Linked DNA regions of Homo sapiens. The protein of the gene in region 1 interacts with the protein of each later gene in a pairwise test. Each region holds a gene or a part of one and is shown on either strand. Other genes may lie near its edges.

Region 1 (3,757 bases):
GTGCTCGGGCGAGTTGTCCTCGCTCGTGCTGCTCTCGGCGCTGTGCCGCTCCTCCTCGTCCGTCAGGTAGTCGTAGCTTGGGAGAGGGAGCAGTGGGCACGGCCGGTCCCGCCCCTCCCCCCGCGCGTCTGCGCTGGCCGCTGAGGGCGGTGGGACCAGGACGTCCCCAGGATGTCCCGAGGCCCCGTCCCCCGCCCCGCCGCAGTCATGGAGCCGCTCACCTCTGCGTGAACTTTAGGTAGGGCGTGTAATCGATGACCACGGGGGTCTTCCCGTCCAGGACTTCCCCCTTTAGACAGAAGCTGAGGCAGAGGAGCCACAGGGTTGGAGGTGGGTGTGAGGGGTTGGGGTAGGACATTTATGGGGGAAACAGCCCCCTCCACCACTGCCGTCAGGCAGACCCCACCTGAAGTCGATGGCGCTCAGTCCGATCAGCATTCCGGTGAGGATGGTGGCTTCATCCCGCAGCATGATGGCTCCAGAGTCATAGAACCGTCTGTGGGGAGGCAGAGGGCCAGAGGATGCAGCAGGCCCCTGGAGCGCCCCCCCCCCCCCCAGAGCTGCTATTGTTGGCTTACTGCCACCCCATCCTGAAGGAAGGCCAATTCTCCTTCCTGATCTGCACGCAGGCCTGGAGCCTCTCTCCCCCTTCAGCCTGGGGCTCGCACCTGTGGCCCCATCACCTAGAATGGGTGTTCCCTGAGCCGACTCCTCCCTCTGAGCTACCCCTTCCTCATCAAGTACTGGGTTACCCAGATCCTTCATATCAGGAAGCAAGTCTTAATCATTAGTGCTTGGTATACAGTAGGTGCGCAAAAAACGTGTTAACTTGAAACGTGTAGACTGAGGAATGGAATTCAGTAAAAACATCAGGCTGGGTATGGCCAATTGGGATGGGGAGGTATATGCCCCCCGCCACACCCAGACAGCTTCAGATGCACCTGCCCACACAGGCACACTCCTCCTTGTAACCCCTTGCCTCAGGCACCCAACCTCCCTGTGAACCCACAGTGCAGGGATTGAACTCCCCATATAAGGACTCTGTGTCCGTGAATAGCAAGTACAGAACTGCTTTCGTTGTTTGGAGAGACAGAAGGGCTGTGTTGTAGATCATGGAGCAAGCCAACACTTGAGATGGTGCATGGCTGAGGCTCATCCAGAGGTGTGCAAGGGTGGAGCGTGCTGGGCATTGATGGCAAATAATGGGCATTAGATTTGACTTGCAAGTGGTGGTGGTGGTGGTGGTAAAAGTTTGTCCTGGGGCCAGGAGCGGTGGCTCATGCCTGTAATCCCAGCACTTTGGGAGGCCAAGGCGGGAGGATCACCTGAGGTTGGGAGTTTGAGACCAGCCTGACCAACATGGAGAAACTAAAAATACAAAATTAGCTGGGCATGGTGGCGTATGCCTGTAATCCCAGCTACTCAGGAGGCTGAGGCAGGAGAATCGCTTGAACCCAGGAGGCGGAGGTTGCAGTGAGCCGAGATCGCGCCATCGCACTCCAGCCTGGGCAACAAGAGCGAAACTCCTTCTCAAAAAAAAAAAAAAAAAAAAGAGTTCGTCCTGGGACTGCAGGCCAGGCTGGAAGAGGGAAATCAGCCATGTGTGCTGGTGCTGGGACTTGTAGTCCAGGAACTGAAGGATGCTGCAGGAACTTAAGGATCAGCTGTGTTTGGGCAATGCAGGTGCACTCTGAGACCTGTGGTCTGAGTTGCCTGGGAAGTCTGACCTGGTGGTCCGGGTGTCACGCAGAGCCGTGGTGATGTATTCTGACATGCGCTTCTCCATCAGTGCCACCCGGATCCATGCCCGGCCCTGGAAATCATGTTCACCTTTACTTGCTGCCCCAGAGGGACTCATGTGTCCAGCATCAGGTGTGGGCCCTTCTCCCCTGGGCTGTGCACAGGGGGCAAAAACCAAGAAACAGGCAGGCCCCCTGTGTCCAGAGCAGAGAGCAGTTGCTTGCTTCAGGCCCCTCACCTTGGCCCGGGCTGTGCTGATGTTCTCCATGTTCTCGATGCTGCTCACACAGTTGTTGGGCACTTTGCTGCAGGCCAGCCGGATATAGTCCCAAAAGCCCCGCTGCCCGTCTGAGCTGAACCAGCTCACTGGACCTGCTGGGGCACAGGCTGAGCCAGGGCAGGGAGGGGGCTCAGCAAGACCAGGGAGTTTGGAGAGGGTCCATGTAGTGAGGCACTCACATGCATAAGCATAAGCAGCCTCCTCCCACAAAGATCTGTGCACACACATGCACGTGTGCAGTGGGCACCCCAGCATATCGCTTGCCCATGATGGGGATTGTAGGCCAAAGGCCTCTCCCTCTTCCCAGATCTGTACACAAGCTTCTGTGCATGGCCCAGAATGGGGGCCAGGGTCAATGAGGGGGTTCAGAGTCCATGGAGTATATCAGAAAGAGGTGGCTGGGAGCTAAAGGTTGGGAGTTGGGGAGGGACCGCTGGGGGAGGGGCGCTGGGGGAGGGACCACTGGGGGAGGGGCGCTGGGGGAGGGACCGCTGGGGGAGGGGCGCTGGGCCCACCTTTGAAGCGGTGGCTGAGGATCTGCTCTAAAATGGCTGCAAAATTGACAAACTCCTCCGATGAGTCATCGATGGGCTCCGCTGTGTACTTCTCCAGCAGCGTTTTCACAGAGAACCTGGGCGGCGAGGTGGGGAGATGGGGCAGTGGGGTGTCAGGTGAGGAAACAGGTGATGGAGGGAGAGACAGGGAGCAACCGGCAGAGAAGAAAGGTCAGGAAGGGCATGGATGTGGTGGGGGGCAGAGCGAGTGGGGAGACAGGCAAGACTACAGTGACCATAGAGGTACCGTGTCATGTGGAGTGAGAGGGTGGCAGATGGGGAGGAAGGGTGACAGGTGGGAGACTGATTGACAAAGTGGGTGACAGGAGAGGTGACAGCCAGAGAAAGGAAGCTTCGGGAGCAAGGGGTGAGAGGGACTGAAAAAATAGGAAGATGAGGCACAAGCCGGGGGCGGTCCAGGAGCCCCTTCCCCATAGACCACCCTTCAGGGTCTGTGTGTGCGAGGCCTGGGTCAACTAGGTGTTAGAAGCCAGTGTGTGCCCCACCTGAGCTGTCTTCTGTGATTGCTGGAGCAACCTTCAGTCCCTTTTGGGGATGGGGGTCACCTGTACCAGGGCATGTGAGTTGGCACTGTGCACATGGAGTGTGGGCATGCGCAGGTGGCCAGGTGGGCTCCCAGTACACAGATACCCCCTTCCCCCCTTTCCTTCCCGGCTTGGCCTCCCACACACCAGCTGCCCAGAACCAGGCAGTGCAGAGCTGGGCGGGGGTGGGGTGGGGAGGTGCGGGGTATGGGCCTGACACAGACACTGGGCAGGAGGGGGCATTGGCAGCAGATCCCTGGAAGGGGCTTGGGGGCCTGGCTTCTTTGGGAGGAAGGGACTAAGGGAAGCCTGTGGGGCTGAAGGACTGAAGCCATGCAGTGCCCCCTCTCCAGTCCTGTCTAAGCCTCAGGCTCCCTCTGCAGTCACTACCCCTGCAATCTCCCCCTGCCATCCCTGCAATGGAGTAGGGCAGGGATGAGGACACAGTTCCTAACATCCCATGATTTCCCTGCTGTGGGTGGCAGAGCAGGGGCGGGGTGTCCAGGGAAATGGGAGCTGCTTGGAAATGTCCTTTTCTTCTTATATTTATCAAGCCCTATAATGTGGCAAGCACAGTACTTTGCATGCATTCCCTTACCCATGCTCAGCCCTGAAAGGTAGGTCCTCTTAGTATTACT
Region 2 (2,941 bases), on another chromosome or scaffold:
CTTTAACATAAAGTTCTGGGACCTTCTGAGGGAATTAAGATGCATAACGAAAGAAGCTGCAAGATACACAGTTTTGTGGTATGCATTTTCCCAGAATGGATTACAGTAGAACTAAATGAGAAGGAATTAACTAACACCTGGAAGTCTGGCTAAGAAACTGAGTCACAGACATACGCATGTGCTTACCATGATATGAAGATTTAAATTCTCTGGCACAATGATTTTTAGAACCCTTGCCATGAAAACTTAAAATCTTTGTTTTTTAATGTTGAAGAGAAGACAAATAAAGTGTCCCCTTTTATTGAAGACATACTTTTCAAATTTTTTTTCCCCTAGGTTGGGGAGAAGGGGAATGTTGATTCTGATCACTTAGGCTTTGCCTCTATTCTAACCACATTTTCATTTAAAGTCAACTTCTGAATTAACATTGAAAACCATAGTCAAAATGTTCCTGTAATAATGTGAAAATGATCAAAAACTACCTGCAATGTTTATTCTATTTCACACACAACAGTTAGTCTTAGTATAAATGGTATATGTCCTCTTTAGCTTAGATTTCAATAGAGATTATTCTCTAACTGTAGTAGACAGCACTCCAAAATGTGTGACATGAGTCTGAAGTCTGTGTCTCTCAATATCTAGGTGGCTGTCAGTATAGTACTCATTTGGAGTTCAGTCTAGATCACTGGTTTTCAAAGTGTGGTCCCTGGAACAGCAATAACACAATCACTTGGAAACTTGTTAGAAATGAAAATTGAGACCCTACCCGAGACCCACTGGGTAAGAAACTGGAGGAGGGTCCCAGCAGTACATGTTTTAAGCTCCAGGTGATTTTGATATATGGTCAAGTTTGAGAACCTTTCAACCAGATGATCCCCATAGCCTTCTCAAACCTTCAAAATCCAGTTAATAGATAAAGATCTCACTCACCTAGAACTAGCTCTGTGTTCAGTTAAATGCACTGAATCATTCCTAATAGTCTGCATAAAATACTGTAATCAAGAATACCACATTATATTAGTATTTTAAAATTTACTATATTTTCACAGACAAAATGTATATTAGCAAACTTTCCCCAAATAAGACACTGTGACAAATGTCTGGTATCGTTTTAACAGTGATGATCTCCAAATTAAATCTCGGTTCCCTTTATACTTATAATGCAGGAACTTATTCCAGCTGTTGTGAAAAACAAAAAATCTATGCTCTTATGACAGTTAAGATGCTTCTACTTCTCAAGACCAGCTGCTACATATAGCTTTCTGTTTCTCATACCCCCTGTGAGAAATACTAGAATATGACCCAAAAGAGGGTACAATAACAAAACTACCTGAACAGATAAAATAGATCAGGCATTCTAGGATTCCCAACCACAGGAAATATTACATAATCAGGAAGCATGAAGTCCCATACATTTAAAGAATTCTATCCCCAAATACATCTGGTCCCAAAATGTGATTCAATTAAGTCTACAACAGTTAACAACATGGAAATTGTTCTACGAAAGAACCGTAACTCTCAAAGACTAGAGTGTTAGACCTAAGATGATACCTTTAACTTTCCTGAAGCTATTAAAAAAGGAGGACAAAAATAACCCTTTTGAAATAACATAAAACCTGGATTGACTGTCAGAGACCAAAAGGAAAAGCTGTTTAAAAACAGCAGGGGTCAAGTTTAAAAGTCAGCTTTTGCTCCCCAAGATAAAGACTCCTTTCCCACCCAATTTCTGTTTTGACAGGTGATTGCCTTACAACAAACTCCGCCCTCCCTGACTCACTTCCTTTAACACTAACTTTTTCATTGAAACAAATGCCCTTATCTCTTCACACACTAATACCACAAGGGGTTCTTAATAGTCAAAGAAACGAACATATTCTTAAAAACATTTTTAAGAAAAAAATAGCAGTGTTCCTAATTTCTCTCAATTTTGCCAAGAAAATATGAGATAAAACCAAAAACGCTATTTTCTTGCTTCAGGCACACATAAAATTGCTTTCATTGATAATCCAAAAAGCATTTATTTTACATCACTTAATAAAAGCATATTAAAATCTTCTGCTCTGCCATCCTAGACTATAAAGAGGTCCTGCAAGTGACTAAATCCTGGGCGGAGGTGATTAACGCACCCAGCAACATATTTCATTTCCAATTTTCCACTTTCAAATATCTTCTGTCAGTATATACATTTCTTAGATACTTGGCAGCATTTTATGTCAAAAGGTTTCCAAAAACTTAAAAATAAAACAAGAGACAGTTAAATGCCAAATGCCTTTTCTTAAAAAAACCCTCCAGACAGTACTTGACATGACTTCAGCATTTTTAACACTTTGGATCTACTTTAGCAACTGAATTTATTCAAATACAAGAACGAATCTTTGCAAAGGCATAAAATTATACAGTATCTTTTAATTTCTACATTTAGGATATTGATACTATTGCCTCCCAATTGTGTTTGATATCAAACTTAAGTGAGATCAGAGTGGGAAAAAAAAAATGGCAGTAGGACCATTGCCAGGCAAAATTCTCTATTCTTCCTCCATTGCTGGAGTACTGAGATGCCTCTTGGGCAAAAAAAAAAAAGCAAAGCAAAAACACACACACACATTTTAAGGCAAGATATGTTAACACAGCTTTAAAGAAACCTGTGGCCTGTTAATTTCTTTTGGTTTTGTCAAGGGTGTAAATCCCTTTGTCAAGACTCTTCAGATTTCAGCTACACTTCATAGACCTAAGGTATACCAAGTACTCTCTTGATATGTATGAACATGTTATATTACTAAGACCACCTTAAGAAAAATAAAAAATAAAAAGCTCACACTGCCTCCTACTGTTAAAAGGAAAAACTTATGAGGTCAAATGTGGTCCAAACTGCAGGGTGTAAATGAGAACAAGGATATTATCTTAGCCTGTTTTCTTTTAAATCTATTTCCAAATCAAAACC

The links. Proteins that work in one complex are often made in the same cells at the same time.
Region 2: the proteins of RUNDC3A (region 1) and RAP2B interact in binary tests that used the Homo sapiens proteins (3 or more experiments, as listed by UniProt).

The regions. Positions count from the first base shown.
Region 1 is NC_000017.11:44,311,474-44,315,230, reverse strand, and holds part of RUNDC3A (RUN domain-containing protein 3A), read right to left. Parts: intron 2,652-3,757; coding exon 2,536-2,651; intron 2,128-2,535; coding exon 1,979-2,127; intron 1,814-1,978; coding exon 1,728-1,813; intron 497-1,727; coding exon 407-496; intron 303-406; coding exon 222-302; intron 77-221; coding exon 1-76. UniProt on the Homo sapiens protein: May act as an effector of RAP2A in neuronal cells.
Region 2 is NC_000003.12:153,165,246-153,168,186, reverse strand, and holds part of RAP2B (ras-related protein Rap-2b), read right to left. Parts: 3' UTR 1-2,941. UniProt on the Homo sapiens protein: Small GTP-binding protein which cycles between a GDP-bound inactive and a GTP-bound active form. Involved in EGFR and CHRM3 signaling pathways through stimulation of PLCE1.